Linked DNA regions of Homo sapiens. The main gene of each other region encodes a partner of the protein of the gene in region 2 in a complex. Each region holds a gene or a part of one and is shown on either strand. Other genes may lie near its edges.

Region 1 (10,503 bases), on a different chromosome or scaffold from region 2:
GTGCTGGGATTACAGGCGTGAGCCACTACACCCGGCCAGAAGCATCTATTTAGGCTTCAGAAATTCCCTTGAGAACTTAACTAACCTCTTAAGTTAGTCAGGAAAAATGATAAAGAGACTCATGAGACAGCATTACAAAAGAATTATGATAACCTTTACTGTGACAACTACTAATAAGCCTTCATGGAAGGAGAGGTGTACGCTCCTTTCCTACCCTCCTAAAGTCTTTGGTGGGCATGCAGCTTTTCTAAATACTTTGCTAATCTTCACAGAGATTATTCGGTTACTCAGCTGGGGGCTTTCCTTATGCACAAGTCGCTGAGCTGGGTAATTCATGAACAGAGTTGTGTAAAAAGGTCATAATCTGGATTCTCAGGAGTTTGAGGGAAGATAATGTCTGTACACAATTACTTGCAAAATAAAGCATTACGGGGTATGTACCACAGAGGAAGTAAAAGCTAGATTCAGTAAGAATACAGGTGGAAGGGATTCGTGAGGAGTGGCTTTTGAGCTGGCCTTAAAAGACTACTTTTAGGGCATTCTCAGCAGAGTAATATAGGGCCCTCAGTAGTCTGGGTACTTTTTCTCTAGGCAGAAGCAAGCCACTAGTGGTGAAATGGAGTGATATCTCTACCAGGCCATGAGCTCAGCAATAATTTATCCAATAATCATTGGCCTTTTGCTAGGCTTTCGTTAGTAATGGGGACATAAAAAGGAGAATAAGTTTCCAAGGAGACCTTCACACTTCCAGGTCCCCCTGCCTGCATCCCACATCTCACTGGATATCCTTTTTTAATTCTCTACATGGCTCTTTGCCTTACTTTTGTCAGGCTTATGCTCAGGTATCACCAAGTAAGAGAGGACTTCTTCAGCCACCCTTTCCACAATAGCATCCATGTTTCCTGTCTTTATTTTTCTTATCATTTCCTGACATTTCCTATAAAATATATTTTGTCAGTTTCTTACCCTAGACTATGAGCTTCATGAGAGGAGAAATTTTGTTTTGTTCACTACTGTATTCCCAATTCATAGAAGACGGCCTGACGATGAGGGTGCTTAATAAATACTTGATTGGATTGAAGAGGCTCCCTGGGAGACAGATAAGAGCTGACAGTTACAACATGATTGTAAAAAGGGCTTAAAAGCAGAGTAGTACTTGGGAAACACAGAGAAGGGAGAGGCCTACCTCCATGTAGGGTGGAAGAAATTGTCATGGAGAAAGTGTCATTTGCATGGCATCTGAAAAGAACCTGGGGCTTAAGTGGATGTGGCAGGAAGGGCACTCCAGGCATGCAATGGTTGACTTGGCCACAGCGTGGGGTGCCTGTGGTGAGAGGCAGAAAGACTCCAAAGCTCTGTTAAGGAGAGTCACATGTCAAGATTTGTATTCCAGAAAGATACCCTAGACTGCAGAGTGGATTGAAAGGGAGAATCCGGCCACAGGAAGTTTATTTGTTCTGTTTTAGAGGTCCAGGTGAGAGATGAGAGGGTCTGAACTGAAGCAGAGGTGGAAGAAACAGAACATGGGAGAGAGAACAGAGCTGGTAAACCTCTACTATTAGATGAGGGGTTGGAAGTAGACAGGTCAGAATACCTATCCTGATTGTAGCAATTTAGGGGTCATTCATCAGGAATAATACCGTGACTTGACTTTCACTGCCTCCTCTAGCTTCTATGTCTGCTTCTATCTGTTTGTGCATTTATTCATGGAGCTGACGTTGTTACTGGTGGAGGGTGTCCAGGTTCTTGGCGTCTTGAACAAAGAATTGGACGAAACGCGCAAAGCAAAGAAAGAATGAAGCAACAAAAGCAGATACTTACTGAAAATGAAAGTACACTCCAGTGAGGCAGTGGGTGGAGCATATGGGCTCAAGGGTCCCCTTACAGAATTTGTGGGGGTTTAAATACCCTCTAGGGGTTTCCATTTAGTTACTTGGTGTACACCCTATGTAAATGAAGAGGATGAAGTAAAGTTACAAAGTCATTTACTTGGCATATGCCCTATGGAGAGGATATTTCCTGTCATAGCCGTAATGTGAATTGGCCTTTTGTTCCCTGCCTCCAGACCCTATTTTCCTGCCTCAGTGTGGACAAGGAACTGTGTAAGACGTGGAGGACAAGACATTTCAGTTACCTCATAACTCATAAAATGTTAGAACTAGGAGGAATTTCAGAGATTAGCTCAGCATCTGCTAGGACGTTGTTTTGGTAGTTGATTAAAATTGACTTTTTTATTTCAGCTCTTGGATGCTTAAACTACACCCATTTTCAAACCTCTCAGAACAATTCTGAATAGAAATTTTCAGGAGACATCCTGAAATGGAAGGGGCAATGCTACTGATTTTACATTTTTAATTGAGTCTGTTTTGCAGTTATTAATTCACTTCATTGAATAAAGACCTCCCTGGGATTAAAAAAGTCTTCTAACCAGCCTAGACCTATGCTTCCTGAAGTGTAATGCAAATGGAAGAACAGTGGAAAGGTAAAGCAGTCCTGCTTTTGTTAGGAATTAGCTTTGCGTCTTTAGGTAATCAAGTAACCGCTTAGGGTGTTGCTTTCCTCTTCTGTAAAATGGGAGGTTTAATCTGCGTGGTTCTTTTTTTTTTTTTTTTTGAGAGGGAGCCTCACTCTGTCGCCTAGGCTGGAGTGCAGCGGCGCAAGCAACCTCCACCTCCCGGGTTCAAGTGATTCTCCTGCCTCAGCCTCCCGAGTAGCTGGGACTACAGGCGCGTGCCACCATGTCCAGCTAAGCCTGTAGTCCCAGCACTTTGGGAGGCCGAGGAGGGCAGATCACGAGGTCAAGAGATCAAGACCATCCTGGCCAACATGGTGAAACCCTGTCTCTACTAAAAATGCAGTGGTTCTTAATTTGGGTTGCACACTGTAATCTCCTGGGATGCTTTAAAAAGTCCTGATGCTTAAATGGTACCTCCAGAGCTTCTGATTTTATTGTTCTGGGGTGAATCCTGGGTTTTCTTTTCTTTAAAACCTCTCTCAGTGATTCCAATGTGCAGCCAGGTCCCACTCAAAGAAAGGGGGAAAAAAGCCTTAATAATGGGCTGACTGAATTGTCCTTCTGTGGGTAGATTTGCTCATCAAATCACAGTGCACAAATAGGGTAAGCTTGACATTAATTGTGGAGCTGTTGCTATATAGGAAGCACTATGGTAGACAGTAGGGAGGATAAAATCCCTGCTTAACACAGAACCAACAAACAGCCAGGCGCGGTGGCTCATGCCTGTAATCCCAGCACTTTGGGAGGCTGAGGCAGGCACATCACCTAAGGTCAGAAGTTCAAGACCAGCCTTGCCAACATGGTGAAACCCCCATCTTTACTAAAAATACAAAAATTAGCCGGGCTTGGTGGCAGGCACCAGTAATCCCAGCTACTCTGGAGGCTGAGGCAGGAGAATTGCTTGAACCCGGGAGGCGGAGGTTGCAGTGAGCCGAGATCGCACCAATGCACTCCAGCCTGGGCGACAGAGCAAGAGTCCATCTCGGGAAAAAACAAACAAACAACAAACGAAAAACATAGGTGAAACTCCTCCCCTTTGGAAAAGATCAATTTCCCAAAAGTGGTATTCTATTTCTTTGAAAATTGACAAGTGTGGCAACATATATCACCTGAAATTTTTTTTTTTTAATCTGTGTTTTAACAGGAGGATCTTTCCAAGAGCAATGTGGGATGAAGTGGTTGTTGTGGTTGCTGAGGGACTTAAACTGGCTTTTTTGGTGAAAAGGGATGTAGCAAGTCAGGGAGGCAGAGGGAGTAAGTTGCAGTGGAAAGACTGGTATTCAAGACATGACTATAGTGAGTCAGGAGAATAGGGTGCAACCATCTTAAAAGGGCTCTGAGTAAATAGGGAGTTTGGATTTAATTCAGTTAGCCAAGAGGGAAGATGAGGAGAGTAGCAGAATCAAAACTGTGCTTTAGGATGAGTAATGTGGATCCATAAATTAAACAGGAAGAACAAGGGATACCACAAAGTTTGCAGTTAATCAGAAGTGAGGTGAAAAAGGACTGAGCTGGATTATGGTAGAGAAATTGCAAAGAAAGTGACATTTAGAAAGAATATGATTGATCAGTGCTCTCTGGCTCCTAGCACAGTGCCTGGAATGCTCAATATTGGTTGAATGAATGACTCAATGAAATTGGGCCATATGAAGTAGAGAAACATTTGGAGCATGAGGAAATATAGAAAGCACTAAAACTCCTTTATTCTAGAGTTTGGTGTATTGAAAAAGGAATGAGACAGTGGTTAACTCAACCACAGTCTCACTTGTAGGCTGTTTCTTTCATGATACATTTACCAGGATCCAGGGACTCTCTCTGAGCTCTGCAGGAGAAGAAAATGAATTTATCAGCTCCTCTGTGTACAGGGTAATGGATTCATGAAAACTAACTTAAAGAGATGGGTTTGTAGGCTGGAATGCCACATAATTATTAAATGTGTCAAAAGCTAGGAAGTTTTTCTGGCAAGGGTGGTACCTTCGCTAATGATAGCAATTCATACACCCAAAGATTGCTTGATAAAAATGGAAATTTAGAGTCAATAGAGTTTGTTATTTTTCAAGAGCTGTTCCATGAAGCAGTGCTAGCTGGTGTCCTCTTTTTTTAGGGTGAGTTTTCCAAACTTTTCCAGGGCCCACCTCCAAAGATTCTGGTATGGTAGGTTTGAGGGCTTGAAGAAAGCCTAGGACTCTATGTTTAGCAGGTCCTCCAGTTAATTTTCATGATGAGGAAAGTCTGGTAAACTTTACCTGGAATTGTTTTTAATCTTTAAGTAGTGGCAAATCCTGGACTGGAGTGCAGCCCAGTGGTTTTGAGTAGGCCTAGTGGGCTCTTGCAGTTGTTTCTTAGAGTGAAAGGTGTGACCCCTTCTGCTCAGCAGTTTTGATACTTGGGAGATACGCTTTCTCTAGGCTCAGCATATGTTTTAGTGACTCAGCAATTGAAACAAGTCCATTTGGATATTTTCCTGCTTTTTTAATGTAGAGAGATGTAATAAGCTGGGCTATTAAAATAAATATAGTTCCTGTATGAACTTTATTTCAAGGTAACTAAATAATAGATAAGAGAAATTGATCCCTGGTGGAATTCCAATTAATAAAACAGAAAGAAAGATAAAATTTGTATACCACCATTTTGCAATTCATAATGGAAAAATTGATCTAGATTGTGATCATCAGTGACTGCTAAAATCATTAGGTGAAAACTGATGGACACTTTATACTTAATGAAATAGACCAACACCTGAACCCATGACCAGCCTGATCAATACCAAGAGGGAGACTTTATGTTCATCTTGATGTAATAGAGAAGGAAAGAGAGAGCATCCCTTTTCAGTATTCTTGAAAAAAAAAAAAAAATCAAACCCAAATCTAAACCTCTAGTTTACCTGTTTATTGGAAATACACCCAGAGAATACAGGAATATGTTAAATCACATCTCAGGTATAAATCAGTCAAATCCAGAATATGGGAAATTATATAGCTTTGCTACTTTCAAAGTATGGTTTACAAACCAGTTGATGTCTCCTGAGACCTTGATAAAAATTCAGATTCTCAGTTTCTGTCTGCAGCCAACTGATTCAAAATCTGCCTTTTAACAAGATTCCTAGGTAATTCTCTTGTACCTAAAGTTTAAGAAGCATTGTATAGGGCACTGACCTAGTTTCTTAGACAAATAGAAAGAAAAAAAAATGGGAAAACCATTACAGTTTAAAAGAAAGTTAAATGTCATGTATTTTTTATATCTTGATTTGAACAAATTAACTGTAAAAACATTTATGTGATAACTAAGAAATGTGAATGTTAGTTCTATATAAGATGATGGTATAGAGTTATTGTTAAAATTGTAGATGCAATGTTATTGTGATTTTTTTAAAAGCCCTTAACTCTGAGAGAGGATACATACTGAAGAGTTTAAAATAATCTGAAGCATGGGAGTAGAAAAGTATAGTTAAAGTACAATAGTCATATACGGATAATTTTGAAGCTGAGTAGTGGGTATATGGAGATTTAATATACTGACTTTTGTGCATGTAAGTATAGTAAATGTAAGTATTAGTAAACCAAAAAAGGCATAGACTTGTAGTTTAAAACGACAACATTAAAGATGACAAATCAACTTTTAGTGTTCAAGCAGTTATGAAGGAAAACTCAAATATGGAGGCCTGCAGGGATAAATTTACGAAATGAATAATGTAAAACTATGAAACCCAAAGGGAGGGATTGAAACCAACTTTGCAAAAGTCATAACTGAGAAAATTATGACAGTGAAAGATATCAGACCTAATTGATCCCATCTTGCTTCTAACCTCTGAACTGTCCTTGTTCATTCTTGGGCGTGAAACCACCTTTGCAAAATTATGACTGAGACAGTGAAAGAGATCTAACCTAACTGTGACTCCATCTTGCTTCTAACCTTTAAGCTGTCCTTGTTCATTCCTGGGCATAGGCTGAACTAACTTTGGGAGGAAATTAGTTTATGGTTTGAAACAAAGACGATAACAGACTTTCCCAAAACAAACCTCCTCCTTGCCTGGGGACTAGACTGCCATTGTCGGACTAAGAAATTATTCACAAGATTAGAAATTATAGTTTCGGAGTCATGCAGCTGGAGGCTACAAGATTCTGACCCTCCCTAAACCACTCCAAAGATCAGTGCTTGAGATATTTTGCAGACCCTGCACTTGATGGATCAGGGGGCACTACCCAGATCGATTAACTGACTCTTCTGATCTTGTGGCCCCCACCCAGGAACTGACTCAGCAGAAGAGAACAGCTTTGACTTCCTATGATTTCATCCCCGAGCCAACCTATCTGCGCTTCCAGTTCACTGGCCCCCTACCCACCAAATTAACTTTAAAATCTCTGATCTCTGGCTGGGCGCAGTGGCTCACAACTATAATCCCAGAACTTTGGGAGGCCAAGGCGGGTGGATCACCTGAAGTTGGGAGTTCAAGACCAGCCTGACCAACATGGAGAAACCCCGTCTCTACTAAAAATACAAAATTAGACAGGCATGGTGGCGCACGCCTGTAATCTCAACTACTCGGGAGGCTGAGGCAGGAGAATTGCTTGAACCCGGGAGGCGGAGGTTGCAGTCAGCGGAGACCATGCCATTGCACTCCAGCCTGGGCAACAAGACCGAAACTCCTCCGTCTCAAAAAAAAAAAAAAAAAAAAATCTCTGATCTCCGAGTTTTCGGGGAAACTGATTTAAGGAATAATAAAACTCCGGTCTCCCGCACAGCCAGCTCTGTGTGAATTACTCTTTCTGTATTGCAATTCCCCTGTCTTGATAAATCAGCTCTGTCCAGACAGCAGGCAGGGTGAACGCCTTGGGCAGTTACAAAATCATATCTGAAAATGTTCTCAGTATCATAGCCATTATGTCAAATCAAATGCCGTGCATTCTACTTGAGTAATTCACAGAAAACAGGAAACGATGTTTCATTACATAAAGATGTTGAATATATGATTTGCTTCTGGGGCCTTAAATGTAGAAGGACATTAAAATTGGCCATCATTGGCAGGGTGCCATTGGCCGGGCACGGTGGCTCATGCCTATAATCCTAGCACTTTGGAAGGCCGAGGCAGGCAGATCACTTGAGGTCAGGAGTTTGAGACCAACCTGGCCAACATGGTGAAACCCCGTCTCTACTAAAAAAATAAGCCGGGCATGGTGGTGCGCGCCTATAATCCCAGCTACTTAGGAGGCTGAGACAGGAGAATTGCTTAAGTGAGGGAGGGAGGTTGCAGTGAAAAAAATAAATAAATAAAATATTTAAAAAATTAAATTGGCTGTCTAAAAGTGCAATGCCTTGTTACTGCTATTCCTTGCAAATGAATTAAAACTTGGACTGCCACATCCTGAGTGTTACATAGATTTACAGCAATTATAGTTATCTTACCTTTAAGGCAAATATTTTTAAGTTGCTAAGGCTAATTTTATAATTTTAAACCTCAAAGATGAGATCTATGAAGTCCTTGATTCTACATGTGTATTTTAACTCAACTACTCCTTAGTAGCTAAGACTTCCACCAAAACAGTTCTACCAATACTCTTAACATTTGCTGTGTATTAGAATCACCTGGGAAGCTTCTAAAACTGACTCTTGCCCAATCCTCACCCCAAGAGATCTGGATTGATTGGTTCAGTTCAGTGATTCACAGAACTTAGCATACATAGAATTATCTGGAAGGCTTCTTAAAACACCAGTGCTGGGCCCACTCACAGTTTCTTTTTTCTTTAGGTCTGTGGTGGAACTCACAGTTTGCATTTCTACCAAGTTCTGAGTGATGCTGCTGCAGACAGCACTCTTTGAGAACCATTGCTCTAGTTTCTTAAGCCACCCAAGTCATTCTAATGGCAGCCAGGGTTGAGAACTGAGAGCCGCTTGCTTTGTAGTGTTGGCCCTGTGATAAAGTGAGCTGGGAGTTTTCAGCCTTTTGGTCCAAAATAGTGCCTATATTCAAATTGTAGACAGTAAAATTGATATAAAGACGTAGCACCTTGTTGGTTTTACGTAGTGTTCCTTCACCATTAATGTGGTAGACTAAGAAGGGTAACATTAATGACCAGGCAAGAAACCCTGGTGAAGAGTAGAGCAGCTGTGTGAAGTACTGTGGCTTGCATAATTTTGCAAGGAGGGCAAGTGAGTAGATTCAGAAATGAGACTGAGCTGATGGGGCCAAAACCAATGCCACTCCTCTGACTTCCTCCGAGTGGTCCAGGGGACATACCATTTCTCTCTTGGGTTCAAGGGGTTAAATGAGGCTCAGTATTATCAGCAGGGAAAGAAATGTAAAGAATGTGCATTATAATCATCACTACAGTTGAATGCAGACTTCTATTGAAAGAACTCTAGCGTAGGGATCCCTGTTTATACATTGGCAGCTCAGTTCTCATAGTATAATCAGAGGATTCAAACGTTCAATACAACTTGCATATGTGATATCACTCCTGTCTCCAAAATTGAAGAGTACAGGTTTATCATAACTTTAATGATTTTAACTGTTTTTCTCTGAATTTTTTTTTTCTTGGACAGGCATCTTTCGAGTCTCATTGATCCCATTCCCATTTCTAGAAGGAAGACATTGGACTAGATCTCAGGGATTCTTCCAAACACTCACATGCTAAGATAAATCATTTAAAGTCTTAAAGTATATATGACTAATGATAGTTTTTATGTTGACATGAAAGATTTCTTCTCCTCATCAGCCTGGTCTTGTCTTGTGTCCACTTTTTATGTACATTACATCTGAGATCCTACTGCCAAACCACAGAAGGGTGGGTGAATTGCGTGGACTGGATGTGGGGCAGTAGTGGGTGAGGGGGTTGAAGCCATCATTATCTTACCTGCCAGAGGTGTGTGAGTGTGAGCAGTTCAACAGTCAGTTGTCACATGTTTATTTGTGTACATGTTTTGCTTTCCAAAAGTATTTTAAGTCAACTGTGCTACTTAAGGGGTGCAGTTTTATATTTTGCTTTAAAGTGTTGATTTCTTTTTTATATGTGATCCAGTAAATCGTAATCATTAATAGTGCCTTTCAGAATTTGCCCACTCATCTGGTATAACTGGTTCTGATGGCTGGGAATAAAGGAAGAGGACGTGCTGCTTATACCTTTAATATTGAGGCTGTTGGATTTAGCAAAGGTGAAAAGTTACCTGATGTAGTGTTGAAACCACCCCCACTATTTCCTGTAAGTATATGAACAGTTGAATTCTCATAGTGTGTTTTTTCATTTTTCAGAGAATATTAAAATTCTATATGGGACTGGATGTATGATTATAGCATCCTCAAGTATAAGAAAGTAAAGGAGAGTGTGTTTCACTTACCTTTAAATATTTTCATGATCTGCTTTCTTAAAATATAGAAAACAAAACTGTATACATCTTTCCATGAATATATTTAGTACTATGTGAACCAGTAAAGAATTAGTTTTCAATTCTTACAACTTGTATTGGTGTTATTGATAAATTCCAATATGAAAATAATAGTTTTAAAAGTCATTAGGTTTTATAATGGTTCTCAGTTCGCACCCTATCACACCTTCACTTAATGATTTTCTTATCTTGTATCTATAGAATTTAAGTTTGCTCCTTAGTATACCACTTGACTTTTTCCCCCACTGAACTTTTTTTGCTTATTTTAGTGTTGTTTTAAAATTTAGTGAGTATGCTGCAAGCTTAATTTCCATAATATATAATGTTTTCGCTTTATGTTTAGTTTAGAATGTATCCAGGGATCTAGATGTATCACACAAGGAGTCTCTGCGTTTTGCTCTTGGTATTTTACCTTTTTGATATTCAGCGCAGCATAAAAACAAAGACAAATATCTCAGGTATTGGCATAATGTCACTTTACAGTGCTTTTAAAAACAAGCTCTTTTCCATGTGTGAGGAGATTACCTCTAAACACTGGGGATGTTAGTACATAGTATTTCTTTATACTTGGAATAAAATTAAAATTCCTTACTACTGGGTAAAAGGCT
Region 2 (10,503 bases):
TGATTTGGTTTTCTTTATTTTGTTGAGTTATATCTGTGTATTTTCTTGAAGTTTGCTGAACTTCCTTAAAACTATTTTGAGTTGTCAGGCAGTTCATAAATCTCCATTTCTTTAGGGTAGATTTCTGGTGCTTTATTTTGTTACTTTGGTGATAGCATGTCTCCCTGATTGTTCTTGATCCTTGTGGTCATATGTTGATGTCTGTACATTGGATGAAGTGGTAAGGACTGATTCTAATCTTTGCAGTCTGACTTTGCCTGGAACAGCCGTTTACCAGTGAGCCCATTCAGAGATTCTGGGCAAGTTGTCTGGTGTGGTCTTCTGTGGGCAGGCTTGTTGCTGGAGTCCTTGAGCAGGCTGACCTAGTACCTAGGTCAGCAGATGGATGAGCCTGGTGCTTGCATGCATAGGATTAATCCTGGAACGTAGGTCCAGTGGAGTGGGCCAGTTGATTGGGTCTGCAGGGGTACAACCAGAGCCTGAGTCCACAAGGGCAGGCCTGGAGCCTGCATCCAGGGAGCTGACCTGAAGCCTAAAAACCTGCAGGGGTGGGCCTAGGTTCTGGGTCCATAGGGACTGTTCTGGAGCCTCAGTCCGCCAGGGCATGCCTGGCATTGAGGCTTACTGAGGTATGTGCCTGGAACCTGGGTCCACTGGAGCCTGGTGCTGAGGCACACATGGACCTTGGGTCCAGGGGTATTGTACTGGAGCCTGGGATTGTGGGTGCTGGCATGGGGGCATATAGATCAGCCTGGAGCCAGGGGTATATAGATACTGGCCTGGAGATTAGTCTCTGAGGGCTCGCTTGGATCCTGGGGCCATGGGGGCTGGCCTAGAACCTGGGGCTGCAGGGGATATTGGAGCCTAGTCTGTGAGGGCCAGCCCAGTGCTGGGGTTTACTCAGATGGGGCTGGACCAGGGTGGGGAGGGGGTGCCTGCTAGAGTGTGAGCTCATGGGTGCAGGCCTGGCAGTGGGTATGCTTAGAGCCTGTGTTCCTGGCGCAGGCCTGGAGTCTGGGGCTGGCATGATTTTGGGGTCCAATGTTCTCCTTCCTCCAAGTAGAGGGTCTCTCTCTCTCTCTCTCTCTCTCTCTCTCCACCCTGTGCTGCCTGGGGCTGGGGAGGGGGTAAGCTAGGTAATGTAAAATTGTCCCTCCTATCCTCTTTAGTACATCTTATTTCTGTGGTACACCAAGGTGCTGTAATCTCTAGAGGTTCCTTAACTCTTGTGAAGGTATTTTTGTGTGTGGACAGTTGTTTAAATTCATGTTTCTGCAGGGGGATGAGTGCTGGAAAGTCCTATTCTGACATCCCAAGTTCCCTCAATTTTTTTTAAAACAATAGTTCCCTCCTATATTCCTTGTTTCTTTTTCTTGCTATTTGAGTTTGGTGTTTTAACCAGTTCTTTTTATCAATGTAAAGTATTTAAGGCTCTGACTTCTCCACTGAGCCAATTAAGTTCTGCAAGGTGATGGGACTAACATTCTGTGCCGTCCCACATGAGCATTTCCCCTTTCAAAGTGAGAAGGAAGTAGGATGGAAAAGCTGAGACATATTCCAAATCGCTTTTGGTAACTTTACTTTTCAGGTTCACATATGTTAACAGAATCAATACACGATCAACTTGTTAAGTGATGTTACCAAATACTTATTTGGCAAAGTACATCCTTGATCAATGCCTTAGTGATTCTATAGCTAAAATATTAGATGTTTTATTTTGGGGGGAGTGGGGAAATAGCATAGACCGTCATTTAAACCTTCAGACAATTAGTGACTGTGTTGTACAAAAAAGATGGCGAAAGCCTTATCTAGATACCAAAATTCACATGTCATCCAACCTAGCTTACTCTTATTTTTTCCATCAGTTTCTAGGGCTGTGCTATCCAATACTGTCGCAAATAGCCCCATGTGGCATCGGAGCACTTATGATGTGGCTAGTCCAAACTGAGTGTTGAGGAAAGTGTAAAATGCCAGATTTTGAAGACTTTTACCTTATGTTGATGTTTTAGATATTTTGAGCTAAATAATATGCTAACATGACCTTTTTAAACTAATGTGGTTGCTAGAAACTTTCAAAATTATGTACGTGACTCGCCTCTTTCTAGTGGACAGTGCTGCTCTGTCTTCCTCCATTAGCTCCGTTCCCTCTAGATACACGTAACGCTGAGCCCAACAAGATCGCCTTCCTGTAACCATTTGAAGATAGCACCATGATGCTAGTTTAGTGTTTGCATTTATTTTAAAAATACACAAAATAGAAATTTTTACATCAAAGTGTGATAACCTCACTTACACATTGTTCCATACTTACCTGGTTTTGTTTGCATCTTTCTGCAAACATTAAAAGGAGATGGATTTGATTCTGATTTTTTTGCTATGGTTCATGTAAACAGTTGAGACTGCTACATAAAGTAGGTTGTTGTCAAAGGTGAAGTGGCCACAGAATCCCAAGAATAGAATAATTCAATTTGGTTTAATGAAATTGGTGGAGGTCTTAGCAGATAGATAATCCAAGACTAAATATTGTCTTCTAGGCATTTTAAAAATTAAGAACTTTGAGGTTTTCTTCATGTTGTAAACATAACTTAGACCTTGTTGGCATTAAGTTTACAAAAGAAAATATTAAACCATGATTTTTATCATCCTGCCCATGTCAGTATACACTCTCTTTATTATGAGAATGAAACCAAATAATAAGCAAAATACATCAGGAATTTCAAATTGTACTGCAAAGAAGGTCCCAGCTGGTCTCTTCTGGGAGTGATCTAACTAACTTAAGCTGACCCTGCGACTGGCTGAGGATAATCCCTTCTGTCCACTGCACCGTGCAATGCCACAGGTCATGAGATGGTCAGTTCCTCTTGCTCTGTGTCGTCTGAAGCAAGTCGAGGCCCTACTTCTGGTTCCGCCCTTCTTCCTTGGGCTTAGATTTGCTGGGTTAGTAGTTTGCTACTATTGTCAAGACTGTACTGTCCCTTTAAGGTACCACATGCCACCATAGCTTACACAGCAGTCCTATGAGAGAGAAACAGGGTAAGCACAGATTTTTGCAGGAAAAGGAGCTAATTACATTCTGTCCACAATGTCAACACTCGATTTATGATTAGTGAATAGAATACAAATGGGAAATCAAAAACTGCCTAACCATACCACCATGGCTACTACCAGCCACCCTTTCCTCAGGGGTAGTGTTTTTTTTTTTTTTTGAAACAGAGTTTTGCTCTTGTTACCCAGGCTGGAGTGCAACGGCATGATCTTGGCTCACTGCAGCCTCTGCCTCCCAGGTTCAAGCGATTCTCCTGCCTCAGCCTCCCAAGTAGCTGGGATTACAGGCATGTACCACTACGCCTGGCTAATTTTGTATTTTTAGTAGAGATGGGGTTTCTCCATGTTGGTCAGGCTGGTCTCAAACTCCTGACCTCAAGTGACCCACCCACCTCAGCCTCCCAAAGCGCTGGGATTACAGGTGTGAGCCACCGCGCCTGGCCATTCCTCAGGGGCATTTTAAAAGTGAGGGTGGGCCAGGCATGGTGGCTCACACCTGTAATCCCAGCTACTTAGGAGGCTGAGGCAGGAGAATTGCTTGAAACTGGGAGGTAGAGGTTGCGGTGAGCCGAGATTGTGCTACTGCACTCTAGCCTGGGCAACAAGAGCAAAACTCCATCTCAAAAAAAAAAAAAAAAAAAAAAAAGGGGGTCTACGAAATACAGATACTGACATGCCCAGAACAAGGGTGCTTAAAAAACAGTATTACTTATATGGCTCTGGATGTTTAATCAAAACAAGACATTGTCATCAGTTTTCTGTCTCTCAGTGTTGCTGCAAATATGGTTGGTATTTGTACTACAGTCACTTCAGAAAAGCATTATAGGTTGTACATTAGGTGCTTTCATATAGTAAACAGATCATATTCCTTTTTAAACTAAATTTAAGAATGGATTCTACTGAAAGTCATGTGTGTGGCTATGGCAACAATCAGAAGATAGTTCAAAATTCAAGGGAGAGTAGAGTGAGGATTCTCAACTAGGCCCTATCATTTTAGAAGACGCCTACCCACTGCCAAGCTCATCCAACCTACCATATTTTTTTGTTGTTCTATTGTTTTAGGCTCTTAGCAGCCTGAAGCCATGGTTTTTAGTTTCTGTCTCTAGTGACAAGCAGAGAAGAGGGATGAAAGGGGCATTACTGGCCTGGCCCAACCAGAAAGAGAAACAAAGCATCCATGGCTGTATTCTTTCCCTTGGACACCACTGTGACTATATTGTTTGAAGGGGTCAGTCCTCTGGCACATACCCCCTTCCCCAACCAATGCCAATCAATCAATCATTAACAGTTGCTCAAGACAAGACTGACTGGGGAGTGGTCCCAAGGAAGCCTGATTTCATATACACAAAGACACTAGAGTCCCTTCTACACACTGTCAGCCCCTTCCAGAGCCTTTGATATTGTTTGTTATGCACAAAATGGATGTACCTTTAGTACTTTATCCACCTCCTGTTTACTGAGATCTTCTCCACACTCTTGAGTCAACCGAGACTGGATCATGTTTCGGCGTACCCGGTAATTTTTGGAAAAAATTTCAAGCAAAACCTGTCGATGCTTTAGTAGCAAAAACACGTTATGATGGGAAACAGTGATCTAAAAAGAGAAACATCCCCAAACAAGACACCCAAGCCATGCACCTGACTTTGTGTTGCAGTCTCTGATAAAAACCCTCACGCAGCACCTCTGGTTAAAGATGAGCCAAGTCATCTCTAGAGACCCAGCAAGACAGTGTACAGAAATAAAAACACAAAAGTAAAGGCATTAATGCTATGTCTGGAAACTTGAATATAAATAAAAACAAAGGTATATGCCAGCATAACAAAAGAACTGGTGAAGAGACATGAGAGGATGAGTGGCTTGAACATATTTCTGCATGGTAAAATGCAGGCGTGCATCGGACTTAGCAAGCAGGTGAAGCGACAATCTAAGCTGCACGGAGATGAGAAGAGGGTGTCAAAATTGGTGTGAAGTCTTAATGCACAAACATGCCACTGCATCCATGAAACAGGATGCCGTAAAATACGTTACACCCCAAAATAAAAATGGAAAAGATTGGATTCAGTATGTCTAATATCTGTCATAAGAATTCTGAAAAAAACAAAAAAAAGTAACAACTCACAGGATTTTATAAGAACTCAATTGTCTAGTACAATAATGACCCGCACCAGGGCACAGCTGAAATGGCACTGACTGATATACAGAATAATGAAAAATTCTGCAGTTTGGCATAAAGGAAAGAATACAGGCCAAATTTAAAAGACCAAGAAGGAGAATGTTATGGAATTTCAACAACTCTGAAAACTTAAACAATGGAAACTCTCTTAAAGATGCTTCATGCCGGGCGCAGAGGCTCACGCCTGCAATCCCAGCACTTGGGGAGACCGAGGCAGGCGGATTACCTGAGGTCAGGAGTTCGAGACCAGCCTGTCCAACGTGGTGAAACTCCGTCTCTACTAAAAATACAAAAATCAGCCACGCGTGGTGGCACACGCCTATAATCCCAGCTACTCAGGAGGCTGAGGCGGAGGTTGCAGTGAGCCGAGATCGTGCCATTGCACTCCAGCCTGGCTGACAGAGGGAGACTCTGTCTCAAAAAAAAAAAAAAAAAAAAAAAAAAAAAAAAAAGGATGCTTCATGTATCACTATTTGTCTAGGACTAGAATTTTGAGAGGCAAATCATTTGATCACGTAAAAATAGAAACTTTGATAACCTCACACATTGTTCCATACTTAGCTGGTTTTGTTTGCATCTTTCTGCAAACATTAAGAGGAGATGGATTTGATTCTCCTTTTTTTTTGCTATGGTTCATGTAAACAGCTGACTGCTACATGAAGTATCCTTTGCCTCTTAAAATTCTAGTCCCAGACAAACAGTAATACTGTATTGTAATCCATTTTAAGACATGAAAGAATGCAGACAACTCCTCTGTCTCTTCAGAAGCTAAAGCAAGGAAGAAGCAGAGATTCCAGAATTCAGCAACAGACATGGGGAAGAGCGAGTCTCACTGGAGAAGCAGAGGGAGAGGCTTCCCGGGAACCAGGCTTAATTAAGCAAAGTATCACCCTCGGTACACATGTGTTCAGAAAATTACACAAGTGAAAACAGGAAGCAGTGAACAAGGAAATGCAATCATAGTATATTACTGATGTTTGGCTCTACAATGGATAGATTTTCAGTTCATTCTGTGACAATGCTATAAACAATGATAGCCAATTAAAAAGAGGTAAAGGCCTGGTGTGGTGGCTCACGCTTGTAATCCCAGCACTTTGGAAGGCCAAGGCAGGCAGATCATTTGAGGCCAGGAGTTCGAGACCAGCCTGGCCAACATGGTGGGACCACCCCCCGACCCCTACCACCGCGATCTCTACTAAAAATACAAAAATTAGCTGGGTGAGGCAGCACAAGCCCGTAATCCCAGCTACCCGGGTGGCTGAGGCACAAGAATCGCTTGAACGCAAGAGGCGTGAGCTGAGATGGCACCACTGCACTCCAGGCCTAGATGACAGAGCAAGAGCAAGAGCAAGACGCTATCTATCTCAAAAAAAAAAAAAAAACTGGCGTAACATATCTATCTCTACAGTCTCCTAAAATAGTTGAGAGCTAAATCTCATCCACCACAATGGGAAGCCCATTGCTAATGACAGGCTGATTTTTTTTTTTAAATGGGGGCAGCTATTTTAGTGGTATCTTTTGGTGATGTAAATGCCTATGATCCTAGCACTTTGGGAGGCTGAGGCAGGAGAACTGCTTGAGGCCAGGAGTTCAAGACTAGCCTGGCCAACATAGTGAGACCCTGTTTCTATTAAAAAAGTAGTAATAAAAGTGGTCACCTCTGAGGGGTGGCAGTCAGGTCCAGCAGTGCAAGAGCTTTCCTATTAAAACTTCTAGTCTGATTTGATGTTTAAAAATCTGCATTTATGACTTTTGTTTTTTTGCCTTTTTGTTATCAAAGTATTTCAGATACCCTCTATTCTGGACAAAAGCACTCAAGCTTGCTCAGGAAAAGGCCCCAGCCCCTTAGATCCTCAGCCTGCCAGTTGGCTCCCCTAAGAGGCAGCTGGGGACAGAGAGCTCAGTGGGATTTCTGCTGACTCCCTTCTCCCCACACCTTAGGAGCAGGGCCTAGACACGGTCAGACCGACTGGCGTTTCGACCATCAAATTAGGTACGTTCACGGCCTAAGAAAAGCTGGGATGCAGGGTCCATGACTACACCACACACACGCAAGGCGCTGCTGCTTCCACTCACATTTCTGGGCACTGGACACCTGTGACCCTCCCCATCACAGTATGACTAGAGGCAAAATGACCAATTTCTTTAACCTAAAAGTCCAGGACCTGACATCTGACAAGGAATCCTTTTGATTCCTGCTGCCAGAGGCCGCCTGAGAAATGTGCTTCACCAGTGCTCTATAAGCCTGGCTGGATCAGAGTTGCTCAGGAAGCTTTACAGAAATTCAGATACCTAGGACAGTACCGCATACCTACTGAACAGAACTGAATCTATGTTTTTTTTTTTTTTCTTTCTGAGACACAGTCTTGCTCTGTCGCCCAGTCTGGAGTGCAGTGGTGCAATCTCGGTTCACTGCAACCTCTCTCTCCCAGGTTCAAGCAATTCTGTCTCAGCCTCCCACGACTATGGGCATTTTTAGTAGAGATGGGGTTTCACCATATTGGTCAGGCTGGTGTCAAACTCCCAACCTCAGGTGATCCACCCACCTTGGCCTCCCAAAGTGCTGGGATTACAGGCGTGAGCCACTACGCCCAGCCTGTATTTTTTAAAAGATGATTCTGATGGAGCTGGCTCACAGACTGGCATCTGGGAACCACTGGTTTAGGTTCAAACTATTGGCACATACAGCTTATTTTGTTAGCGTACAGAGTTGGAGCAGGATATTTAAAACCGAGTGTGCCAGAAAATCTGAAATGTGTGGCTGCACTTTGGGTGCACATGTCCCCCAAGGCCTCCAACGCTGCAGGAAACCCCCCTGGCTCTTCGGGAAGATGGCAGCAAAGTTCACCTCACCTGATCACTCATGTCTCCAGACTCCCAGAGGGCAAACACCTTCTGCTCATCCGGGGAAGCAGCAGTCTGGGGGGGAAACTGACCAAGGCCCAGGGGTGAGTTGCTTGTCCATCTCTACCCCATGGATCCATTTGCTTGCCTCATCCCTCCCTGTCTGCCCCAGCCCAGATGCAGGAACATGGGTTCCAATCCCAGCTTCTGCTACTCACCATCTCTGAGGGCCTTGGGCAGCCACAAACCTGTGCCTCTCACCTCACCATGGGGAGGAGGCCAGCACACCCCCCAGGGCCTGACAGGGCTTCAGCGAGAGGGGGAGTGTGATGGGCCCAGTGAAATGCCCGGCTTCGAGTCTGCAGATATCCTCCGTACAGTGGGGAAGCTGCGTCTGTTTCCCATCAGCCTGGCACCAACTCAACTGTGCTTTAACACCCAGAGTCCTCCCTCCTGAAGATGCCAACCCTGATGGAGGGGCGCCCCCTTCCCCATAACTCTTGGGGTACCCTGGGGGTTCTTTTCAACTGCTTCCCACATGTACCATGTCAGTGTGGGTTAGAGGCACTGCCTGACTCCCAAGCAATCCAGGCCACTTGGTCCAAAGGTAGACCAGGACAAGTGTGACACAGGCCTGGGTCCTGGAGAGAAGGGGACAGGGGAGGGGGCATCTGGGATGGTAGTTTCCAGTCCTGGTTCCATCACACAAGTAGCAATAATGGTTACTACCAGTAAAAGCCCTGTGAGGCCTCCAATACACATTTGCATTTGAGCATTAGAAACTGGGGAGGTAGTACATGGGGAAAAGTAAGCTCAGAGAGGTTTGCTCACTGTCCATGGTCACACAGCTAATAAGCAGCAGAACCAGGAGTTCAAGTCAAGTTCTCGATCTATTCACTTGCCCTGGACCTCAGCTCCCTCATGTACAACACAGAGGTGGCTGGGATCGGAGGTCTCTTACGTCTTGGATGTGACTACAATACAGTCTCCTTGTCAGGATGGCAAGGAGAGCATTACAGTTAGGGCCATGGTGTCTCCTGGAGACGCTGGCCCCACCCCAAAGCAACATGGACAGAGGGGGTCCGGAAGGAGGGGTGAGGGTGTCTGAGGGTGGCCATGTCCCACCCCTCACCTCTGTCCACTCCAGCGGCCCAAAACAACTAATGTCAGGCAGGTGTCCTGCCTGTCCTGGCCCAGCTCATGAAGAAAGGTGAGCTTGTGGAGACCCAGACCCATGTGCTGGGTGGGCAGGAGCTCCGAACTCTGCCAGTACCTCCCACAGGGGGCTGCCTGCCAGCAGGGCCGATCCCCTGAGACAGCCTAGGCTCCACAAGGCCTCCTGTCCTAGTTTCTATTCCTCATACACAGGGATGGGCCTTGGCCTCAGATCATCACCCAAGGCTGCAGGCCCGCTCCTGACCTTGGCAATGAAAACATCAATGCTTTCTTAGAGACCACCACAGCCCCACCTCACCCCATTTTGCTGCCAGGTCTGGGCAGAGCCTTGTGGAAAAGGAGCACGGGAAAGGCGTGCCTCAGGCAGCACCTGGCGCTCTCTATCCTCAGCGCAGGGAAACGGTCCCCAGCAAGCACTCTGCTCCCCCGTCAGGGCCCCTCCCAGTGACAGAAAAGCAGCCCAGGGGGAAGGGGCAGGAGGCTTGCAATACCACACTCAAGGCCTGGCACTGGAAGTGCTGAGAGCACAGCGCTGAGCTGGTCAGCTTGCTTCTGATGCACAGGGAGGCCGCCAGGACCCAGGCCCAAGCTGGGGCGTGGCGCAGCTGTGGGGAAGCAGCTCATCTTAGCTGAGCAGAAAGGATTCAAAACTCCAGGCCACTATACTGAGGTCCAAATTCCAGCTCTACTACCTCCTAGGTAGTGACCTTTAAACGTACATTTCATTCCTTGGAGCCTCAGTTTCTTCATCTGCAGATTGCAAAGAAGATCAAACGATCTTAGAAGTTAAATCATTCCAAACAATGGCAAAGCTAGTAGGAAACAGGTGTTCTTGGTGGGGGACAGGGTGAGAAACCAGGCAGGGGCCCTGTTTCACTAGGCCCTGCTGCAGGCCAGGCAATAGGCCGGGCCTTCAGACACCGTATTTAGCCCCTACCACAGTCCTGTGACATAAAACCCAACATGATCCCATTTCATGAGAATAGAGCCTCAGAGAGGCTGACTTGCCCATGTCACACCTAGGCCCACGTGAGAGCAGATGCTCACCAAGCATGGCCTCCCGTGTCCCCACGTGGCCTCCCAACAGCTGGTTCTCCCCACCCCCCACCCCCCATGCCCCTGGCAGGCAGGGCTCTACTTACAGGCACCAGTATCTGCTTGCAACCGGCGGCCAGCACCGTGTCCTGTAGCATGCGGTCCGAGATGCCGCTGAAGAGTGTGTGGCCGGGGGGCAGGCTGGCCAAGTGCAGATTGAAGAGGCGCTT
Region 3 (10,991 bases), on a different chromosome or scaffold from region 2:
TGACAGAAATCATATGGCTCACAAAGCCTAAAACATATACTGTCTGGCACTTTATAGAAAAAGTTTGCCAACTCCTGAGCTAGAAAATTGATGGGAAAGGTTTAAGAAAAGATTCATCGGACCCCAAATCTCCACATCCAGAGCCCTTGGAAATCCAACAAGGCTAGTAGACTTAAAAAACAAATCAGTCATTCAGATGAGGCCTTGGCGTAGAACTCTTTAACCTAACTGCTACTAAAGCCAAACTGAAATGCTCTTAGGAAAAGGATGTTTTGGTGATGAGGGAAAGTAAGGGAGATTTAGAGCATCGGCACCACTTGGTGGGTTTTTAGACAGTCTTGCTTGTTTGTTTCTGGACAGATGGAGAATGGCTTCACTGATAAATTCCATTGCAATGTCACTGGGGGCTAAGGCTGCACTTCCTCCCCAAAGCCCAACATTCTTCATTCAACTGGACTCATTCTTGCTTCCTGAAATGCTCAGAGTGACAATGTGGAGAATGAAACCCTGATGACTGGGCTCTGTGACAACTCATAGGAAAATCGGGGGGTGGAATATTTTATGGGAAATGGCCCAACACCAGCAGTAGGAAGCAAACAGAAGGTGAGAACAGACTAGACCTATGTATGGCAGTGGCAATTAATAAATACAACAGTTATACCATAATACATTTATTTCATTTGTCTTATAACGCATAATTATTTCTTCTTTTTTCAATTCAGGTAGTTTGAGCTGTTTCCTGGTTTAGAGTCTTATCAGTCAAACCTAACACACTTTCTCGTTTTATGACTGCTGTATTAGGGTTCTCCAGAGAAAAAGAACCAATAGGATACACCTCCCTCTTGAAAGATTCATCAGAAGCTATTTGCTCTGTGATTATGGAGGCTGAGGAGTCCCATCATCTGCCCTCTGCAAGCTGGAGACCCAGGAAAGCTGGTGTTGCAGATCAAAGGGCTGAGAGCAGAGAGCTGATGGTGTAGATACCAGTCCAAGTCTGAAGGTCTGAGAACCAGGAGTGCTGAGGGCACAAGATTCATAGCCCAGCTCAAGATTGAATTCAAAGAGTGAATTCAATCTTCCTCTGCCACTTTGTTCTATTTAGGCCCTGAATGGATTGGATGATGCTCACCCAACTGGACCCATATCTACTTTACTCCGTTCACCAATTCAAAATGCTAACCTCTTTCAGAAACACCCACACAGACACTCCAATAAAATATTTAACTAGATATGTAGGAATCCTGTATCTTAGTCAAGTTGACATGAAATTAACCATCACAACTACATAATAAAAACCAGTGATAATCAGCATATCAGTAATTATGCAAAATAGTTAGATTCACCTTACCATAGACAACAACCTATTGATGGCTACTGCCCGCTGCTGGGCTTCTATATGAGGCATTTCATTCTGAATTACTTGGTCTGTGATTCCATGAGGGAACTGGTGACATAATTCTATAATCCTAGAAACAAAGGTATTAATGTTATCCTTCATGGTTACCTGTTTCAAGAGACAGTGGGGGTAAAAATACAAGTAGAATAGTTTGAAACTGTGCCTTTTTCACATTTGGCAGACAATCTGGGTTTCTGTGATGGTTTTGGATCAAAGCATGTTAGAAATTGAAGAAGATGATTTCTAAATACATGTTTACAGTATTATTGTTATTTAAGAATATTTCTTTTCCTCACTAATAAGAACTTTAAATTAGAGCAAAAGTCTAATGAAATCACAGAAAAAATATTAAAGCTGAGACTTCAGTTTTCTCGGGTGTAATAAGCATGACAAAGTTAAGCCATAAATCTGCAAGCAGGAGGCAAATGCAGATGTTTCTGGTAGGAAGCCAAAATTTGTTATGACAATTCACCATAATGGGGCCTGTTTTTGGAATTATACCTACCAAACAAAAAAAGTCAAAATCTTCACCTAGTCGACATCAACAAATGTATTATTCCTAACAGTCTGAGAAAGTTGAGTCTTTTAAAACTACGTGAAAATCTAAGAGTGGCAGTGCCTCGGTAAAATATAAAACTGGGCCGGGCGCGGTGGCTCACGCCTGTAATCCCAGCACTTTGGGAGGCCGAGGCGGGCGGATCACGAGGTCAGGAGATCGAGACCATCCCAGACAACATGGTGAAACCCCGTCTCTACTAAAACATAAAAAATTAGCTGGGCGTGGTGGCGCGAGCCTGTAGTCCCAGCTACTCGGGAGGCTAAGGCAGGGGAATCGCTTGAACCCGGGAGGCGGAGATTGCAGTGAACCGAGATCGCGCCACTGCACTCCAGCCTGGCGACAGAGCGAGACTCTGTCTCACAAACAAACAAATAAAAATAAAAGTGGCAGAGGCTTTGGGTGTCCTAAAAGTCTTGAGTTCAATACTGCACTGAAACCACCTGGCTTAATGTTACTTCGTAATCACCAACTGCGCCCTAACTCCGCCTAAACGTTTTGTCATAGACGTTCCCTTAGTGACAAGAGCGATCCTGGATCAGAACATGTATTCACAAGTGTTCTACAGGGAAAGAAAGCCGAGGGCTCCTCTCAAAGCACTGATCGCGTCAAAGTAGGAAGGCAGCACGTCATCACAACTTCCCCAAAAGTATCAGGGCAAAGCCAGCCAGCTACACAAAGTTGCAAGCTGTCAAACCCATTTTGAACTTCTTGAGTTCTGCTCTCCCAGGATGGGAAGGAACAAGTGGGTCCAGAACCCCGCAATCGTTTTTCCCGCGTGCTCACCTAACCCGCTCCGGCCACTCCCAAGGGATCCCGGAGAAGGGGTCCAGCTGCCCAAATGACTGGGCGCCTGATGGAGTGCCAAGCCGGAGCCTCACTGGTTTACCTGTTTTCTATTTCGACCGGATCCGCGTCAGGCGGCTGCACCTTCACCTTCACCTCCGCCATGAGGGCGCAGTTCCTGACGCCTGGGGGGAAAGATGCACGGAGCAGCCCGGTAGCAAGCCGGGGAACCCGGGGAACCAGTGGAGGATAGCGCTCTGCTGAGGCCGAGGGGCCTTCTTCCTCGTGTCGCAGCCGGTCCTTCCTTGCCTTTCGGCGGGAGGTGGCCAAGCTGCGCCTGCTCCGGCCCACTTACAGGCGCCGCTACAGCTTCTTATTCTTGTTTTCCAGAATGTCAATGCCCATCGGACGCACAAGCCTGGTTCCTTCATTCTGAGTTGGGAAACCAACTTTTAGCACTTGGCAACTCTGTGAAGGAATATTCTTAGATGCCTATGGGAAAGCACTGGGAAAGGAACTCCAGGCGGGTACCAGGCTCCCTGCGGAGCGGCAGGGGCCGGTCTAGTTGCTAAGAAGCTGAGTCTCCACCAATCATCTGCCCAGCACCCAGTGGGCGGGGCGCGGCTCGCCGCGTCTGTGGTAACCCGGGCGGCGGCGAAGGAGGAGGCAAGAGGCGGTGAGAGGCTGGCGACTGGGTTGGGCGCGGCAGAGATGCATTAGGGGTCCCGATCCCGGGCCCCGCGGTTAGAGGAAGAGGAGGGCGGCTAGAGGAGGGGAAGAGCTTCCCTTACTCCAGCCGAAAGGATGCAGGTGTCCTTGGCAGCCCCTGATGGGCGGGAACAACCAAACGGGATTCCGGATCCGGGCTGCGAGGGGGCGGTCCACGTTGGGAGAGTTGAGGGGTCTGGGGATCCTGTTGACTGCACGTTGCCATTTGGGCCTGGCGGATCCGCCTTTTTTCTTGATTCCCTTTGCGTGGGGCCCACTGGCCACCCCAGCTTCCTAAGGGCAGCTGCTAGTTGACGCTCGCGAATTACTTCCTCTCCTACATATTTTTTATTTAGAATTTTTCAACTACTTTTATTTTATCTGCCTTTCACTTAAATGGAAATGCGACTATGGGCAAGTCTCAAGTCCAGCCACACTCCCGTAGGAGCTATTGTTGTGCTGTCAGTATCTGTAGTTTATATTCTTGGCCCTAGATCCGGAACTATCCAACAAGGCATTAAGTTCACCCCTTAAATTTAGGTACCCCATTTTTGAGAATACAGTCTGTGACAAAGCTCAAACTGCAGACATGTTCAGATCAGCATTATTAGAACTGCAACAGGCAAAACTAAAAAGAAACTAGAAATAGCCTAAATGCCCAGCCACAAATGGATAAATAAGTACAGGGAAAACTAAATAATACAGTGAGAATGCAAGAAGTAGACTATAAAAATGGAATGAATATGTAGATTATAATTGGGCAAAATCTATGGATTATTAATGAAATTTGAAAAGGCAATACAGAGATGTAAATGGTTGTTGTGTTAAGGTGAGCGTTTTTTCCCCCTGAAACCTTCTGTGCATTAATTATGACAACCTTCCTCCCCACCCTCACCTCCAAAAAGACCAGTAAGGCTTTCATACTGGTAGTTAATTATTAATACCAGGATTTATAAATACAGTAGATGAAACGGGAGGCTTGTGTTTATTGGTCACTGTTTATATTCTTGCAAACTTCCTTTCCACTGAGAAGTAGTACTCTGCAGTCCTTCTAAAGTGTCTTTGCAGCTTTCAAATACTAGAACTGCTCTGGTGATAATGGCAAGGCTGTGAACCCGGAGCTTTCCCAAAAAAGTTAGCTCTAACTAACATTTTGTGGTACACACAGAATTACTTCTGTTCCCCTTGTATGATGACTTGCCCTGAAGCCAAGAGAGCTGACACACACCAGAGGCAGGAAAAGGCGATAATGATTTACAGGGAACTCAAGTCAGAGCGTTAGTGATAGTCTCTGTTTTGCCTTACTCATTTAATTTGTCCTTTTAAAGTAACTTCTTTCTTTTCCCCATCTCATTCATTCATGCTCCTTTCGCAGAAGTGAGGTATTTAGATAATCAAAACCCCACACAAGACCTCAACAGCAAATACAGATGAAATGTAATTATTATTTCAATTAAAAAGGGAATAATATTTGTAGTGCCATGTTAACAGTATTCTCTCGTTTTAACTAGTTTTGCTGCATTTAAATTAAGTGCTGCTCTTCAGCTTTTGTGTACATTGGAATTTATATGTATATATATATAGAGAGAGAGAGAGAGAGAGAAAATGACTGCTGGTTCAGTGTGTGTCCCTCAGATCATACCATTACGAGTGCCTCAGCCTGGAAAAGCTAACCATGAAATTGATAACAATACGCTTTTGGAAATGAAATCAGGTAAGAATCACATATGTTTGAAATTGTTTAAAATAACATTGTCATATTTCTTGTGTTATCTGGTTGCTGGTTTATCTCTTTGCCTGCTTTCTCACTCTTTGCTCAGCTTTTTGGGAAATTTGTAAAACTTCTAAAATTTGAAACAGTGCTGTACATTGATGGTTTATAGAGTGGTATACATTTAGATTAAAATGGTTAGCTTTGACCAACCTTTCATTTGTATAGTTTCAGCAATGTCTTGACTTACCTTAGCCAAGGTAAGATGTCCCGGTGCTGGCCGGGTGCGGTGGTTCACACCAGTAATCCCAGAACTTTGGCAGGCCGAGGCAGGTGGATCACTTGAGGTCAGGAGTTCAAGACCAGCCTGGCCAACATGGCAAAACTCTGTCTTACTAAAAATACAAAAATTAGCCAGACATGGTGGTGGGCACCTGTAATCCTAGCAACTCAGGAGGTTGAGGCAGGAGAATTGCTTGAACCTGGGTGATGGAGGTTGCAGTGAGCCGAGATCGCGCCAGTGCACTCCAGCCTAGGCAACAGAGCAAGACTCCGTCTCAAAAAAAAAAAAAAAAAAAAAAAAAAGTCCCGGTGCTCCCCAAACTTTTCCAATATGCTCATTATTTAGCTGGTATAATAAATTTGACCTACTGATACAGGCTTTCCAGTCAGACAGGTTGGAGACTTAATCCCTGCCTTGACAACTTCTAGTGACCTTGGGTACATTACTTAGCCTTTTTGAGTCTGTTACCTCACTGTAAGACAGGAATAATAATATCTACTTCTTAGAGCCATTGTGAGGATAAATAGGTTCGTGTATGTATGAGGTGCACAGGGTTTGGCATATAGTAATGTGAAAATAAATCTCAACTCTAACTACAGAAATAAAGCAGTGAGGGCCAGGCCTGGTGGCTCACGCCTGTAATCCCAGCACTTTGGGAGGCTGAGGCAGGTGGATCACCTGAGGTCAGGAGCTTGAGACCAGCCTCCTGTCTCTACTAAAAATACAAGATTAGCCAGGCATGGTGGCCAATGCCTGTAATCCCAGCTACTCGGGAGGCTGAGGCAGGAGAATTGCTTGAAGCCAGGAGGCGGAGGTTGCAGTGAGCCGAGATGGCGCCACTGTACTCCAGCCTGGGAGACAGAACAAGACTCCATCTCAAAAAAAAAAAAGAAAAAGAAAAAAGAAATAAAGCAGTGAATGTATATCCTGCTAATACGTATTCTTCAAAATCTTAAATATGTGTGTATATCTACACATACACATATATATACATACACATATATAATTAACATAAGGAAGGAAAGTTTCACAGGTAAAACATATGAACAAATAGATGTGTAAAAAAGACTTTGAAATTCCAATTTTTGCCTTTTTTTAACCAATTATATATTTTAATAACTGAAATGTGTACAAACTATCTGCATTTATGTTATGACCCCTGTGCTGCTTAGACCAAGAGTTCTAACTAAGCATATGTATTATTATCTGTGTTCTCCTTTAGCTTAAAAGCTGATACAATTTTTTAAACTGTCAAACCAAATTAAACATTTTAATGTATGTGCCCATAATTCTTAGGAGAAGTTGGGTGACTATTGACAAAAGATGATATGAATGGTAGGGTATCAAAATTCCCTAATATGTAAATATCAAATAAATAAATAGTTTTCACAATTCAGTAACAAAAAGAACAGTAACCCAGAAGAAAAATGGGCAAAGGATATGAAAAGACCTTTTTTTTGTTTTTTCTTTTACAACTTTTATTTTAGGCTTGGGGGTACATGTGCAGGTTTCCTACCTGGGTATATTGTGTGGTGCTGAGGTTTGGGGTATGATTGAGGCCATAACCCAGGTAGCAAGCATTGCTGTAGGTTTTCAGCCCTCCCCACCCTCTGGTAGTCCCCAGTGTCTATTGTTCCCATCTTTATGTCCATTTGTACCTAATGTTTAGCTCCCATTTATAAGTGAGAACACGTGGTATTTCGTTTTCTGTTCCTGTGTTAATTCGCTTAGGATTATGACCTCCAACTATATCCATTTGCTGCAGAGGACATGATTTCATTCTTTTTTATCACTGCATAGTATTCCATGGTGTGTATGTACCACATTTTCTTTGTCCATTTCACCATTGGTGGGCACCTAGGTTGGTTTCATGTCTTTGCTATTATGAATAGTGCTGTAAGGAACATATGGGTACATGTGTCCTTTTGGTAGAACAATTTATTTTCCTTTGGGTACATACCCAGTAATGGGATTGCTAGCTTGAATGGTATTTCAACTCTTATTTCTTTCTTTTTTTTTTTTTTTTTTTTTTAAGACCGAGTCTTACTTTGTCACCCAGGCTGGAGTGCAGTGATGCAATCTTGGGTCACTGCAACCTCCGCCTCCTGGGTTCAGGTGATTTTCATGCCTCAGTCTTCGGAGTAGCTGGGATTACAGTTGTGTGCCACCATGCCCAGCTAATTTTTGTATTTTTAATCTGCCTGCCTGGGCCTCCCAAAGTGCTGGGATTACAGATGTGAACCACCGCGCCCGGCCTCAACTCTTATTTCTTTGAGAAATTTCCAAGCTGCTTTCCACAGTGGCTGAATTAACTTACATCCCTGCCAATAGTGTATAAGTGTCCCTTTTCTCTGCAACATCTGTTAGTTTTTGACTTTTTAACAAAGGCCATTCTGACTGGTGTGAGATGGTGTCTCACTGTGGTTTTGATTTGCATCTCTTTGATGATTAGTGATGATGAGCATTTTTTCATGTGTGTGTTGGCCACTTGTATATCTTCTTTTGAGAAATAATGAAAAGACATTTTGTAGGAAAGGAAATATAAAGGTCTCTTAAACATATGAAAATATTTCTTCTCCTTACGCTTCTCTCTGCCCCTTCGTCTGCTTGCTGAGCAGAACTTATCCCTGCTTCACCTCCAAGCACTTAATCACCACCTGACAAACTACATTTCCTTGGTTGTTTACTGTTTCAGTGTCCTTCCTAAAACATAATCTCCATGAGAGCAGGGACCATTCTAGGTACAGGGGATATGCAAGGAGCCCCTAAGATATACTTTTGCATATCCCCTATACCTAGAATGATGTCTGGTACATAATAGGTATTCAGCAAACATTCATTGTAATGAATTAGTGAGTTTTACTCAAAATGCAAGAAAGATGAATTGAAACTACAAGATAGTATTTTTTTTAACCTAGGAAATTAGGAAAACTAAAAGAAAAATGGATAACACACTAGATGAGGAAGATTGTGGTCAAATAGGTGTTTTCATGCATTGCTGGTGGCAGTGTAAATTGCTTAACCATCCATGGAGGGCAGTTTGGAAATATTAATCAAGATTACAAATGCTGGCAGGGCATGGTGGCTCACACCTGTAATCCCAGCACTTTGGGAGGCTGAGGTGGGCAGATCACCTGAGGTCAGGAGTTCGAGACCACCTTGGCCAACATGGCAAAACCCCGTCTCTACTAAAAATACAAAAATTAGCTGGGCGTGGTGGTGGGTGCTTGTAATCCTAGCTACTCAAGAGGTTCAGGCAGGAGAATCGCTTGAACTCGGGAGGCAGAGGTTGCAGTGAGCTAAGATCGCACCACTGCACTCCAGTCAGGATGACAGGAGTGAAACTCCGTCTCAAAAAAAAAAAAAAAAGATTACAAATGCATGTATCTTTTGACTCAGCAGTAACTAGTTCTACATATTTGTCTTGCCCATATATTTACAGAAATAATTCTTTACAAAATTATTTATTATAGTGCTTATAATTGCAAAAGAAACAAAGAAAAGGAAAAAAGAAGACAGCCTAAAGATCCATGTGTAGGGAATTGGTTAAATTATTGTTCATCTATATAAGAGAATGTGGTGCAGCTATAACAAATAATGAGGAAGCTCTTTTTTTAAAAAAATTTAAATTTATTTCCTAGGGAGCTCTTTATGTACCAATATAAGACATACTGATAAATGAAAAAAGAAATATGTGGAACAGGGTACAGTATGCCATCATTTGTGTCAAAAGAGAGGGAGAAATAAGAATATGTACATAGATGCTTGTATGGATATAAAATATTTTTGAAGGTTACTGAAGATACCATTGATAACCTCTGGGAAGCTGGTGTCGTGGGTTGGGGGAGACTTTTCACTGTATACCCTTTTTGACCTTTTGAATCTTGAATCATGTTTGTGTCAGTGCCCTGTTGGAGAGGCAAAAGAGCATAGTGGTTCAAGAGCAGGGGCTATGTATCCAACCTAGCAGAAGTCAAATCACAACTCCTCTATTATTTAGCAACTTTATTAATCTCTCTGGGACTCAGTTATCTCATCTATAAGATGGGTGTAAAATAGGACCTACCTCATAGGGTTGTACAGATGAAATGAGCTCATTCAAGTAAAGCACAATGCTGGTACAGAGAAAGAACTGCATTATTGCTATTACTATTCATTTCCATTATGTATATATAATAACCTATAGATCAGTTATTTAAGGAGATTAACACAATCTTAAATCACAACTTTTTTTTTTTTTTGAGACGGAGTCTCGCTCTGTTGCCCAGGCTGGAGTGCAGTGGCGCAATCTCAGCTCACTGCAAGTTCTGCGTCCCGGTTTCTGGCAATTTTCCTGCCTCAGCCTCCTGAGTAGCTGGGACTACAGGCGCCTGCCACCACGCCCGGCTAATTTTTTGTATTTTTAGTAGAGATGGGGTTTCACCATGTTAGCCAGGATGGTCTCGAACTCCTGACCTCGTGATCCGCCCGCCTCGGCCTCCCAAAGTGCTGGGATTACAGGCGTGAGCCACATGCCTGTCCTAAGTCACAACTTTAAATCTTAACTTAAATCACAACTTTAAATCTTAAATCACACACTTAGATCTTAAACTGACCTATAGGCATTATTCAGGGACTTGCTACTTTGGTGTTAATTATAGTTATCCTGTTTTGGATTTTTCAGACACTCCAGATGTCAACATATATTATACTCTGGATGGCAGCAAACCTGAATTTCTAAAGAGAATTGGTTATGGGGAAAATAACACATTTAAGTATATAAAACCTATTACTCTGCCTGATGGAAAAATACAAGTTAAAGCTATTGCTGTCTCTAAGTAAGTTAAGAGCATGGTGATTAATTTAATTTATGATATAATAACATTATGTTCTAATTTTATTCATTTTTTCCTATCAGAATCAGTGCTGCATTAGAAGGACACTACTGAAACATTATTTTAATTTCAGCATATGTATGTAACATTTGTGTTTTACTTGCCTTTCATTGAGGCATACCGTAAGGTGCAGAAATCATAAGTATACAGCTCAGTGAAGTGTTATGTATATTAATACTGTTTTTATTTTAAATTCCACATTGGGGTTTCAGGAAGGAAGATCCTTTCCAGGGCCGGGGGTCTCTAAAGAGCTCCATCTTGCTCTGAAGAAAATACTGTGTTCGCGGAGTGGCTCTTTTATTCCCCAGGATGCAGCCTACAACCACCGCCGTCATTCTCGATTTCGTTTTGTATCGACTTAATTGGCCTTCAAAGCTACTGTCATTTCAACTTGTTGGACATTAGCTACCATACTTTTTTCTTTATCCTTTTTTTTCTTAATGACTTTTTCCCATTTTCAAATATAGAAACACTATTTAATTTGGCAACCTTCACCATGTGTTGTAGGCAAAAAACAAAACAAAACAAAAAAAAACCTCAAATCCTTGCAATTCTGTGTGGCTGTGATATAGGAATTATTTTTCCAGCAATGCAGGTTTGGCCACATTTTGGGAACATTTAAAAGCCCCAAACCAAATGCAGTACCTGGCTGGCCCAGGTACTTTAAAGGACTCTAG

Evidence for each region.
Region 1: POLR3E (region 2) and POLR3G share a complex: the UniProt entries of both Homo sapiens proteins name them as parts of the RNA polymerase III complex.
Region 3: POLR3E (region 2) and POLR3F share a complex: the UniProt entries of both Homo sapiens proteins name them as parts of the RNA polymerase III complex.

What each region holds. Positions count from the first base shown.
Region 1 is NC_000005.10:90,475,974-90,486,476, forward strand, and holds part of POLR3G (DNA-directed RNA polymerase III subunit RPC7), read left to right. Parts: intron 1-9,055; exon of another isoform or gene 9,056-9,551; 5' UTR 9,552-9,594; coding exon 9,595-9,711; intron 9,712-10,503. UniProt on the Homo sapiens protein: DNA-dependent RNA polymerase catalyzes the transcription of DNA into RNA using the four ribonucleoside triphosphates as substrates.
Region 2 is NC_000016.10:22,326,156-22,336,658, reverse strand, and holds the end of POLR3E (DNA-directed RNA polymerase III subunit RPC5), read right to left. Parts: coding exon 10,381-10,503; intron 9,989-10,380; coding exon of another isoform or gene 9,899-9,988; exon of another isoform or gene 8,150-9,898; coding exon 8,072-8,149; intron 4,600-8,071; coding exon 4,474-4,599; intron 3,016-4,473; coding exon 2,959-3,015; 3' UTR 1,563-2,958; downstream 1-1,562. UniProt on the Homo sapiens protein: DNA-dependent RNA polymerase catalyzes the transcription of DNA into RNA using the four ribonucleoside triphosphates as substrates.
Region 3 is NC_000020.11:18,459,419-18,470,409, reverse strand, and holds the start of POLR3F (DNA-directed RNA polymerase III subunit RPC6), read right to left. Parts: upstream 3,021-10,991; 5' UTR 2,904-3,020; coding exon 2,842-2,903; exon of another isoform or gene 2,739-2,841; intron 1,467-2,738; coding exon 1,349-1,466; intron 1-1,348. Other genes in the region: DZANK1 (double zinc ribbon and ankyrin repeat-containing protein 1), read left to right, coding at 3,543-3,548, 5,031-5,160, 10,104-10,257. UniProt on the Homo sapiens protein: DNA-dependent RNA polymerase catalyzes the transcription of DNA into RNA using the four ribonucleoside triphosphates as substrates.